3 separate regions of the Homo sapiens genome follow, and regions 2 and 3 are each linked to region 1. Evidence: fine-mapped expression QTL. A gene starts in region 1. Each other region holds a variant in brackets. All regions are shown on one strand. Distances are between the middles of the regions.

Region 1 (4,247 bases):
GGCACATTTTTAAAGATAAAATGTGAAACTTACAATGTCCTGCTTACTAATACCTTGTCTCACGTCCAGAGGACACTTACTTCACACTCCTCTAATCTTAGTGGTTCTCTGGTGGAAACTTACACATTACAAAAAAAGTAATCTATTCTAAATCCTAAAATAATTTGATTTTTTGTAACACAATGAAGATAACTAGCACAAAGTAAAGAAAGAATGACTTTTTTTTTGAGACAGTCTCACTCTTGCCCACGCTGGAGTGCAGTGGCGGGATCTCGGCTCACTGCAATCTCCACCTCCCTAATTCAAGCGATTCTCCCGCCTCACCCTCCCGAGTAGCTGGGACTATAGGCGCCCACCACCACACCCAGCTAATTTTTGTATTTTTAGTAGAGACGGGGTTTCACCATGTTGGCCAGGATGGTCTCGATCTCTTGATCTCGTCAAAGTGCTGGGATTACAGGCATGCGTGAGCCACTGCGTCTGGCCATTTTATTTTATTTTTTGAGACAGAGTCCTGACCTCAAGCAATCCGCCTGCCTAGGCCTCGCAAAGTGCTGGGATTACAGGAGTGAGCCACCGTGCCCAGCCAAGAAAGATTTTGGAAGAGTGAATGAATACAAGGATTTCCACTAGACTGAGAATTAGTTTGTCAACAGCATTTCAGTGTCTTGAGAAGTGTTTACATTTGGCGTGGACAAAGCTGGCAGATGACGTAGAAAGTAAAAAGTTGCCTCTTCAAAGTTTCCCTTCTTGTTAAAGAATAAATCATAAATGTTAGAAACAATAGTTTCTTTTAAAGACTAACTTACTTCAAGCCTCCTTGCTTTGTGCTAATAACTCTGTTAAGCCCTATTGTATGTAACTGCGGGACATGCTCACAGGCCCAGGCACGTTCCAGCTCACAGCCTGTTTAGCAAATCGGGTATCAGTTTAAGATTATGAGGTCCAGCCCCAGCCAACGGATGCAGGACACAGCAGTAAGGACAACCCAAAGGCGTAAGGGACAAATATGTCTGCTTTTCCTTTGTTCAGGAGTGCTCTCACCATCGTTCCATCTGCAATTGAGCACCCTTTCTGCATAAAGTAAAAATTGCCTTGCTGAGAGATCTTTTGTCTCCATGCTGACTTTTCTTCGTGTCACCAATTATCTATTTCTAACAATAACAAGGTCTTTTCTGCACTGCAGTGACAACCAAAGCATCCCAAATGAAATCATTTCTGCAAGACCCAAACTAGCCTCTATTAACACGTACTAACAATTCAGAACACCAGAGAAGAAAAGTTATTGGAAACAAAAGGGTCTAAGCGCTGAAGCACTGTATCGCACTTGAAATGGAGGCTGAAGATTTGAGAAGGATGGACTATGCATCTTGTTTACCAAATGACCTACTACGGTGTTTATGAGAACTATACGAACCAAGATTTACTCTGTTGGGAGCTTGTAGGAAAGCTGTAATGTCTAAGACATACCTGAATCTCTAAACCTTATTAAATAAAACTTTTTTTTTCTTTGAAAGGGGGCCTGGCTCGTCCCCCAGACTGGAATGCAGTGGAGCGATCTCGGCTCACTGCAGCCTCGACCTCCTGGGCTCAAGCAATCCTCCCACCTCAGCCTTCCGAGTTGCTGAGGCCACAGGCGGGCGTCGCCATGCTGGGCTAATTTATAACATTTTTGTAGAGACGGCATCAAAATATGTTGCTCAGGCTCACTTTGTTTTCCCAACTCTCAAATGAAGGCTCTGGCCGGGCGCTGTGGCTCACGCCTGCAATCCCAGCAACTTTGGGAGGTCGAGGCAAGCGGATCACCTGCGGTCGGGAGTTCAAAACCAGCCTAGCCAACATGGAGAAACCCTGTCTCTACTAAAAAATACAAAATTAGCCAGGCGTGGTGGCGTATGCCTGTAATCCCAGCTACTCGGGAGGCTGAGGCAGGAGAATTGCTTGAACCCGGGAGGCAGAGGTTGCGGTGAGCCGAAATCGCGCCACCGGACTCCAGCCTGGGCAAAAAGAGCGAAACTCCGTCTCAAAAAAAAAAAAAAAAAAATGAAGGCTCACTGCTCCCTCCCCAGGAGGTGCCGCAACCTTGGCCAATACAGCCCCAGAGTTAGACAAGCAGACAGAGAAAGTGTGCAGGGCTGGGGTTCTGGCCCGGGCAGACGGGAACGCGGACACATCTAGCACTCCGAGTCCGTCAAGGCAGCGCGAGCGCTGCGCCGCTGGAACAAGTCACCGCGAACCCTAATCCCACCCCTCCTTACCCTATTAACGACAGAAAGCCTCGTTCCGCTGGTCCCTGAACAAAAACTCCTACCCTACTAGTACACAGCCCACAACAATGCACGCTGCCGGCGCTACAGCCCCTAAGCAACCGGCCGGAAGTCGGCCCCACCTCCTCCTGATGTCACGGAAATGAAGGGCTTCGCAGAGGATGTCCCGCCCGCTCCCTTCAGACGGGCGTAGCTGGCACCTTCCTGAGATATGCCTGCTTGCCCCCGATTTTTTTCTCCTTGCAGTGAGAACCTCCTCATGTGGCATCTTTACTTATTCTCTTCTTGGAAAATCCATGTGACCTCCCCGCGCTTAAAGTGTTTCCACGTTACAGGCGACTTAAAGGCAGCCCTGGAGCCTGACGTATAATTCGAGCGCCGATGCAGAAAGGAGTCAGGTGTTTTTTTTTTTTTTTTTTTGGTTTCCGGTTCTGTCACCTCCAGGCTGAGCCGGGCTGGCGGAAGAGGCACGTGCGCTGCTGAATGGAGCTGGTCGCTGGTTGCTACGAGCAGGTCCTCTTTGGGTTCGCTGTACACCCGGAGCCCGAGGCTTGCGGCGACCACGAGGTGAGATACCGCGTAGTTAGAGACAGTCGGAGGCGGGGCCGGGAAGGTCGGGTTTGGTTCCTACACAGCAGAGGTGAACATTGGAGCGCCTGCTGTTCACTGGATGATTTGATGAATCAAACCTAAGAGACTTAAGAGAAAAGCTAACCTTTTAAACCGTAGAATGGACATTTTATCAAAATGAGGCAATATCTGCCTTTTCTAGTAGACAAAAGGTCCACGGGACACAAAGGAAACCGGCATTTCTGCATACGGACAAATGAGTCGTAGATTGTGGATTTAAGGATCGATCCCATAAGTTGACAGTATTCAGAATTTAATGAAAGAAGATCTCGCTCTTTTGCTGAATTTCTGCCCTGGAATTTTACAAATTACTAGAACTAGATTAGGATAAATCCCTTATAGGTAAAGCGATACCAATTCATTATTTGTTGGGAACTTATGGCGAGCTGGGCGGTGGAGATGCAAAGATGCTGGAGGTATGGATCTTGCCTTAGAGACGTTGCCTACATAAGGGGTGGAGGACTGAGGAGACGCATAGATGGAGAGAAATTACAGCAGAATATGATATTACTAGATGTGTGAATAGATAAAAAGGTCAAATAAATTATCAGTAGTCAAATAGGTAGATAGGACTATACTCACGACTAGGAATCCGACCTCCTAACATCTAGCTCACTTTTATTCTTGAAGCAATTCTAAGCATTTTCTAGAAAATTGAGTACAGTACTTCTTTATGAAGTCAAGGCGTCGGTCTTTAATTATCCAGAAAATTTGGAAGTATATCACTTGGCCTATTGCTTTCGTTTATTTTGTTTCCTACTCCAGTTATTTGCTCTTTGTCTTTGGCTGAAAAGTGATGTGTTTTGAATAGTCAAAGATGATGCTATTTAATTTTTTTTTTTTGTAGTGAAATTACTTAACTGTGTTCCAGACACACAGTAGTCCTCACAGCAACCCTCTGAGGAGGATGCAGTTATTCTCGTTTTGCAGATGAAGTACCAAAATGTTGGTCCTAGATAGGTTAAGTGACTGCTGAAGGACACACAGATAATAATTGACACAGCTGACCCCAAAATGTCAGGAGCCCCCGAGGGTCTCTGACATTTGAAACTCTTAACCATTACCCTATACTTCTACTAAATCTAAGCAATAGCCTAGATAACCTACATTATGTGAATTTTAAAAGGTTATTATTTGATTTAAGGCCATAGCAGACCCGCAAAAATGCTTGATTCAAAGGAGGCCCCCTTGGTCTTAAATGATGGAAGGAGTATCTTCTGTAACTAAGGACCTGATTTGCAGTAACACATGTTCAAAGAAGTTTGATGGGTTTTTTTCTTTTTCGGTTTGTTTTGCAAATACTTTTTGATGCAGTTCCTTCAGTTTAAGGAGTGAGTGAGTGTGTGTGTG
Region 2 (4,247 bases), 980 kb before region 1:
GTTAAAATGCCTACCATAAACACACACACACAGACACACACGCATGTGCAATAAGTGTTTGGAAGGATGTGAAGAAATTAAAACCTTTGTGTACTATTGGCAGGAAAGTAAAATGGTTCAACCACCATGGAAAAAAGTATGGTATGTTCTCAAAAAATTAAAAATAGAATGACTATATGATTCAGCAATTCCACCTTTGGATATATATCCAAAAGAATTGAAAGCAGGGTCCAGAAGTGATATTTGTGTACCCATGATTATAACAGCATTATTCACAATAGCCAAGATGTGAAAACAATATAAATGTCCATTGGTCGATGAATGGATAAACAAAATGTGGTGTATATATATATATATATATATATATATATATATATATATATATATACATACAATGGGATATTACTCAGCTTTAACAAAGAAGGAAATTCTACAACATGGATGCTACATGGATGAACCCTGTGGACACTGTGCTAAGAAAGATAAGCCAGTCACAAAAGAACACATACTTATGATTTTACTTACAGGAGGAGGTATCTGAAATAGTCAAAATCATAGAAACAGAAAGTAGAATCGTGGTTGGCAGGTGTGCAGGAGAGGGGAAATGAGGAGTTGCTAATAGTATAGAATTTCAGTTTTTCAAGATAAAAAAAGTCAGATTTGTTGCACAACAACGGGAATGTACTTACCACTGAACTGTAACTTAAAAATGGCTAAGATGGTAAGTTTTATGTTATGAGGATTTTACCATAATTGAACAGTTTTTTATAATAAACATGAAAATAAATTATTGTAAATGGTAAATTTACTTTTTATCTTTAAAATCTAAAATACATTCCTGCTTATCTCACTTACCCACAATGATCTCTCTACATGAAGATTAAATTATTTGCATGTGACTTTTTAAAGATCAATTTTCATTTTAAAAATTGAAATTATCAGTATGCCACTAAAAATCTATGAATACAAATCCAAAACTTAAGAACTTTTTCATTCCATAACACAATACTGATATTTTTGGTTGAAACAAAATATAAAAGGATCTCATACAAAGTATTCTGATTCAGCTCTGATCTCTTCTCTATATTTGGCATTAAGGACAAGAGATGTCAAAGTTTCTAAAATTATAGTTTTTGCAAGAGAAAAGATGAAGAGGCCATCTGAAAATTACTGAACAATCAGAAAGCATTTTCTACTCAGTCCAAACAATTTGTGGAGGTAGCATACAACAGAGTTACCACAGTGTTGCGACTAAAATCTCTGGGAGCTGACAGCCTGGATATAATTATTCTCTATGCCTTAGTTTCCTCACTTGGAAAAAGAAGTTTGTAATAGCACCCAGACCTCAGGGTCAGATATCAAACAATTTGAACCACATTATCACTGTGGTACATTCACAAAACAATGAACACATACTCTGTTGCTTCTCTTTCTTTCTCCTTTTCTAATATTTCCCAGTCCTACTTTGAACTAGTCTGGGCTTCCATTGAGCCCAAGAAATGTAGAAAACCTATCTAAATGATGATATGATTCCTTTTATTTTTAAAGGTATATATGGATATGCAAATATTTGTTATTTAATTAAAGCAGTAAATCGCATGGGTATATACCACGTGTTTTATTAAACCAGTAATTGATCTTTATAATAACTAGACTGTAAATTCCTGGATTAGTATGCCTAATTTTATTCTAGAAAGATTTTCCAGAATGAGATAGTAGATTCCTCAATGAAAAATAGTCCTAATAATAAACATGTTACCAAAGGAGAAACTAGTAACAGACTAAGCAGTTCAGTGACTTAATGACAAACCACAGCAAGTCAGAGCAGTGCTGGGGACAGCACAGAAATGGAATTCATGGACATATTCAAAAGATGTTACATACAAAAGCTCATTGCTCTCCGAAGATTATCAAATGTGATGACATAACATGGGAAGAGAGGATAAATCATGAAAACAACAGTGGGGAAAAAAGAAAGAAAGAAAAAACAACAAGTAAATCTACTATTCCCTCTTAGCATTCCAGACCATGACTACAGCCTTTTGGTCTGCACAGAACTAGTGAGGCACCAAACCTGATACTGACAATTCCTTTTTGTTGTTCTTCTGTGTGTTTCTCCATGAAGGTGTAGCCCCTCACCTAATGGAAAGCAAGATGCAGTCTTTGCATTGAGCATTCTTTTCCATTACAAAAATGAGGAACAGTTAAACAGGAAACAGACCCCAAGAAAGTTTGGTTTATATACAGTAACGTAGTCAGGGGCTAACTCTCTTGTAGAAGGGATTTCAGAATACCTCACTCCATTTACCACCATGTGAAATGAAATGCAGAACTTTCCACACTGCTAAAGCAAAATACCCTGTACATGATCTCCTCCTCGGTTAATTACTCTGTCATTGTTTTGCCTCTTCAAAGGGAAGGGAAAATCAAATGCAGATTTGGCATTGTGTTGTTT[G/GA]AAAAAAAAAAAAAAAAAAAACCTGGAAAGTCTCAAATGATGCAAAACAGAAAAGACAGTAGCTTCTTTGACCTTTGGAAATTTCCACTGTTCTTTTCATATCCATTGACATAAATGACTAAGCAGTTTAAGTGGCGTATGCACAGAACCCACTATAAAGTGAGTCTTTTACCATTAGTTTTACTAATAAAATGTTTCCTATGCACATTAAGATATATGTGCTTTTTTTTTTTTTTTTACCAGACTTTTGATTTAGGACAAATAACACTAAAATTTCATTAGGAACCACTTAGCTCTAATTCAAAATATTCAATTATTTTATACCTAGTCACTACAAGTCAGGATTTGATTTTGATTTATCTAATAATGGTAACTATTATTAGATATATGTGGATTCAAAGAATCAGGAAAATCCCTGAATCGATAATTGAGAGTTTAGAAATTTATATACTGCAAATTAGAAATTAACAAAACAATCAGTTGATACTGAATGATGCCAAATAAAAGGCTATATCAAAAGCTAATTGAGCAAAACTAGTCAAGTATAGTGTTATTAACAATGCCCACACAGAAACAAAATATGACAGTCTTTTAATCATTTCAAATTTGCCCTTGAAATCTAAATGTATACAATTTAGAATTGTTGTAGAATTATCTCTACAACTTTCTCTTCACTTATAATTCTTGAAATATTTTTCATTAAAAAGAATTTTGCTTCCATGTTTCAAAACTGTCTTGAAAGAGAACATCTTTTGTATCCTTATAGATATGCAAGGCACATGATAAAATGCAGTGTCATTGTGGAATGTCTTCATCCATATTGCAACTGTTCTTTGCCTTCCTCTGTAATCTTTCTTGGTTATGTACAAAGAGTATGACCATCAAAAGGATAATAAATGGCCTCTGCCACTGGGGTGTGTAATATGTATAGTGGGAATTGATTTGTTGGTTATGAAGGAAGCCATAGAGCACACAGATCACTGCAAAATCACATTGAGGCCAGCAGCTACTTCTCAGTTCATGCGGACATCTCCTCTGTTGCTCACAGGGTGAGCTGCCAGAGGGTGAGAAGAATGGTAAGGTCATCCAGTATTCAGCTATTAAATGAAACCTATTTCTCTGAACTTTAGCCACATTTCAAATGACACACATATATCCACCTTCCATGCCCACTCCTAATAAAGACCTGAAATCAAACAAGATTTCTATGATCCATCCATGTAATCATAATAAAAAAAGACCAAAATTGCTTTGGAAAAAATAAAAGAGAATGCATAAAAAAGAGAATGCATTCTTAAACTACTCTCTTCCACAGTTAACAAGAATCCTTAGGAATTAGGAATTTGGATAAAACAAAGAGCCACCACTCATCAATTATGCATAATAATTCTTATTTAAAAATCACTACCAATAGATGGCACTAAAAATTTCCATATTCCTTTCTTTTGGCATAACCAAACATACTCTGGTTGTAGCATTTTTAAAAAATTAAGGTGCTTTTTTCATTATAATCATCTATAACTAATTATTTTATTTAGGTACTTATTATTTTCTTTTCTACCATATCCCACTCATCAGCAAGTTTTTGAGCATGGATATCCTCAGTGACTTCTGAGGCTTTCTAAGACTTAATAGTCACCTTTTCAGGGAGTCATTATCATGAAAATATCAAAGAAACATGCATCCATCATATCATGTCACTGTTGGAGAAGGCCTTATTATATTCCCTCAGCATTCCCTTCTCCGGAGGCTGAACTAAAGCCTAAATAAGTTAAGTCACTTGCCTAAGTAA
Region 3 (4,247 bases), 570 kb before region 1:
GAGGCAGAGCTTACAGTGAGCCGAGATTGTGCCACTGCACTCCAGCCTGGACAACAGAGCAAGACTGTCTCGAAAAAAAAAAAAAAGAAAAAGAAAAATCAAAATATTCTCTTTGAGACATCCCAGAAAGTTACTAAACTTCAGAGGCAAAAAAAGAATAATCTGGGGATCCAGACAAAAGATCAAGTATTTAGAGGAAGAAAAAAATGCTAGTCTCAAAGTTCAGAAAAATCAACGCCAGAAGACAGAGGAGCAGTGCCTGCGAGACCCTCTAGGAAAGAACACGTGACTGAGGTTTAAACCCAGACAGACTGTTATTTACCAATCACTTTTTCAGATACAACAAGATTTTAAATCTCAGTAGCTTTATTAAGAAACTATCAGAAAAGTAACTTCAGACAACCAAGAAAGAAATGGAGTCACTATGGCTAAAGGACTGGCACGGAGGGTTTTAAACGATGGAGCTGTGTGACCAAAACTTGAACGAATATGAGACTTGTAAATTAAAGAATAGACTTTTATAACTTTCAACTCTGACAATGTAGAAATTATATTTTTAAATAATTTTTTCTTTTTCTTTTTTTTTTTTTTAAGAAACGTGGTCTCACTTTGTTGCCCAGGTTGGTCTCAAACCTCTGAGGTCAACCAATCCCCCACCGTGGCCTCCAAAAATGCCAAGTGAGCCGCTTCACCTCCCAAAATGCTGGTGAGCCACTGTGCCCAGCCAGTATGATTTTTTTTAAGTTGAGATGGGAGGAAAAAAAGTAAAAAGGAATATAGTTTTGCTTATTTCTTCTTAAAAAATTGTTTTAATAGCCTGGGGTCAAATGAGGCAATTTAAACCTGACATATCAAATAACAAAGCAATAACTGCACTTAGAGATATAAATATAATTTTTTAAATAATATAAACAATTAAAATTGGATGATAGGAGGAAGTATGTAAGACAAACAAATTAATTTTCAATTGCTTGTATTAGAGAGTTGATAGATACTCTCTTGAAGAACAGAAGATTAAGTGTATTATATAATGTTATAGTTATTAAATAATCACTAGGATAAAAATTAAAACTTTTAAAATTATTATAAGAAGCAAAGAAAGCAGAGCATGAGATGAAATAATTAAAAAGAAACAATAACAGATAGCTTGGCATACTATATAAGAGAATTTAGAAATAAAACTCACTAGAAAACAAACCATCATCTGAAATATTAAAACTCTCTAGTAAACAACTCAGAAAAGAATAAGATCAAACCCGAAATTATGGAATATTTAGAAAATGATGGAAATGAAGCATTACATATCACCTAAGAGATATTGTCCAATCATGCTTAATGCAGAAACATTAGATGCAGTCTTACTAAAGACAGGAACAAGACACACATGTCCTCATCATCACTGTTAGTCCACATTGTTCTGAAAGTACTAGCCACTGCGTTTATTATTTAAAGACAATATTTACCTCTAAACACATAGGAGAAACAATTGAAAAACCACAATGACAAAAAAATTTAGGAAGGTGCCTCCAGTACAAAATCATTCTCCTTCCTATATAAAAACAAACAACCAATAAGAATATGAACTGAAGGGGGAAGAAACATTTATTATAGCAATAAAAGAATAAAATACATAGGAACAATAGACTTTTTTCACCAATAAAAAATTAGCATAAGAAGAAAACTTTTAAATGCTATTGAGGGACATGGAAGAACATTTAAATAAAGAAGCTTGTTTTAGGATAGCAGCAGCCAACACCAAAAATATATTTGTTCTTCCTGACATAATAAATTAAACACAATCTTCATAAAAATTCCAGAAAATTGTATTTGTGGAAAAAATTTGAAGAAAATATGTTTTAAATTTAAATAAAAAGAAAAATGGGAATTTTTGAGGCAAATTCTGTGAATGAAGAATAATAAAGGGGTGATCAAGTCTAACTTAAATTTCAATAGGCTATAATAATTCAAGTGGATAAATATTGCAAACAGGATAAAAAGCTCAGAAGTGGATCCAATATACACAAAAGTTGGCATTCCAAACTTATAAGCAGACAATAAATAATTCAGAAAATAGTTTGTGAACAACCGGAAACCCTGTGGAAAGAACGGAGTTGGGAAAATAGCTATCTCCCAACTTATATCAAAATAAATTCCAAATGGACAGAGGTTTAAACCGTACAATATAAAACCATCAACCTAAGAGCAAGGTTTTATAATAATGGACTAGGGAAGGTCCCTCTAAATATGACCTAAAATTCAAAAGCAATAGAACATTCATTGAAATGTATAAAAATAAAACTTTCCTGACTGGAAATAAGCCCTGTAACAAAATCAAAAGACAAATTACAAAACTGGGGGTGA[G/A]GGAGGAGTAGGGAATGCAATTAATATCACAAACACAGGCCGATGGCTATAATAAATAAACAGTTCTGACATATCCATAAAAGAAACAGAAAAACTAAGCAAAAAGATACATATTCACAAACATACATATATTGTACATATTTACATATATGTATATGAGTGTGTATGCACAAAAACACACATATACATATGGGAGTTTCACAGAAAAAGGAACTAAAAAGGTCTTTTAGTCACATGGAAAGATGTTCAACTTCATTCATAATAAGAAATAAAAATTAGAACTTAACTAAAAGAACTTAATTTGTTTAACCTATGAGATTAGCAAAGTTAGATAGAGTTTGATAATAGTGTGTTATCCTATGTACACAGAGGTACTTTCCTAGAAAAGTAAGTGAAAAAATTGTCCAACCACCATACTAATCACCCTGATTTGATCATCAGACATTATATGTACTACAGCATCACTATGTACCCTATAAACATGTACAGTTATTATGTGTCAATCAAAACATTAAAAATGTTTTTAAAATTTTTAAAGCACGGATTACTTATGCTATTATCTTACATTAGTTTGGGCTACTTTTAAGCTTCATAGAAATGGAATCTTGCAGTTCCTACACTCTTGTCACCAGCTTCTTTTACTTATCACATTGACTGTGATTTATCCGTGTCACTTTATATAATGGGTTTTGTTCTTTTCATTCCATGATGTGAATCTACCACAATTTATCCAGTCAACGGTGAGTGGACTTTTCAGTTGTTTCCAGTTTGAAGCTGTGAGGAATAATGCTACTGTAAATAGTCTTGCACAAGTCTTTTGGTGCACTACATGGTGATGGTTAAGCCAGAGACAGCTAAAGAGTTGTGGAGATAGCTGGGTAGACTACAGATATTAAGAAGGGTGAAGGTAAATAGCCCTAAATTATACCCAAATGCTCTTCATTGCTCAAATATAATAACAATAGCAATAAGTCCAAAAAGTGTTACCCTCAATGGTATGTATCACTTTCAGCCTTGGTTTCATAAAATAGCACATAGTTTTTTAACAAGCATAAGCTAAAAAAAAATGTGCCACTTAATTAGCTTCACAAATGGCTGCCTTGCTGTTTTCTACTTATTTTAGGGTGGATTTGATCTGTATGTATTCAACCCTGAACTTCAGCAATATAAATGACCATGCTTGCCCTTATCCACCTTCTTACAATATGTGACTGAGAGGGACATACCAAGATCGAGGACTAAGGATTTCTTAGGAATGTGAATTCACAGACTGGAAGGCAGAGGGCAAAAATCATCTTAAATCTTTGTTTAAAATACTTTCATTTTAAAATGCTACTCTAAATTGTTTTGTTTTGTTTTGTTTTGTTTGAGGCGGAGTCTCTCTCTGTCACCAGGCTGGAGTGCGGTGGCGTGATCTCAGCTCACTGCAATGTCCAGCTCCTGGGTTCAAGCGATTCTCCTGCCCCAGCCTCCCCAGTAGCTGGGACTACAGGTGCACGCACCATGCCCAGCTAATTTTTGTATATTTAGTAGAGACGGGGTTTCACCATGTTGGCCAGGATGGTCTCAATCTGCTGACCTCGTGATCTGCCCGCCTTAGCTTCCCAAAGTGCTGGGATTACAGGCGTGAGCCACCACACCCGGCCTAAACTGTATTTTTTTTATAATAACATAAGCTTTAAACTAAGACTGATCTGCAGAGGTCTTAACATAAAGGTGTTTGTTTCTGAAGAAAACTTTGCTTCTGAAAAAGTTATTGTATGACATTTCCAATGCAAATAATACCTAGACGCAGAAAACAGCTGCAAAAAATGTCATATATTTAATTTCTTAAATAGCATTTAAAGGAAGAAAAGCAAAGTATTATCACATTCTGATTTGAGAAA

Alleles and levels. Positions count from the first base shown, and alleles are read on the strand shown. Sizes are in standard deviations (SD) of each study's normalised expression. Not every link is listed here.
For the expression in CD4 T cells of the gene that starts at base 2,381 in region 1, G is the low allele of the variant in region 2 and GA is the other (moderate effect, 0.62 SD a copy in BLUEPRINT).

What was found. PIP is the estimated chance that this variant, and not a neighbour inherited with it, causes the effect.
Region 2: its variant is fine-mapped to the expression of C6orf52 in CD4 T cells (BLUEPRINT, PIP 0.95).
Region 3: its variant is fine-mapped to the expression of C6orf52 in visceral fat (GTEx, PIP 0.98).

The regions. Positions count from the first base shown.
Region 1 is chr6:10,692,236-10,696,482 of GRCh38, forward strand. C6orf52 (chromosome 6 open reading frame 52) reads right to left here and starts at 2,381. Exons shown (of 5, transcript NM_001145020.3): 1 at 2,259-2,381. PAK1IP1 (PAK1 interacting protein 1) reads left to right here and starts at 2,737. Exons shown (of 10, transcript NM_017906.3): 1 at 2,737-2,834. The coding sequence starts at 2,751. RefSeq lists enhancers at 2,295-2,344, 2,353-2,955, 2,385-2,764.
Region 2 is chr6:9,708,221-9,712,467 of GRCh38, forward strand. It overlaps the pseudogene OFCC1. Among named protein-coding and RNA genes, the nearest start is that of TFAP2A-AS2, 690 kb to the right of the region's middle. The variant G/GA (reference allele first, on the strand shown) is at 2,456.
Region 3 is chr6:10,119,870-10,124,116 of GRCh38, forward strand. All of the region lies in intron 1 of LOC124900218 (a long non-coding RNA gene), which reads right to left. It also overlaps the pseudogene OFCC1. Among named protein-coding and RNA genes, the nearest start is that of TFAP2A-AS2, 280 kb to the right of the region's middle. The variant G/A (reference allele first, on the strand shown) is at 2,362.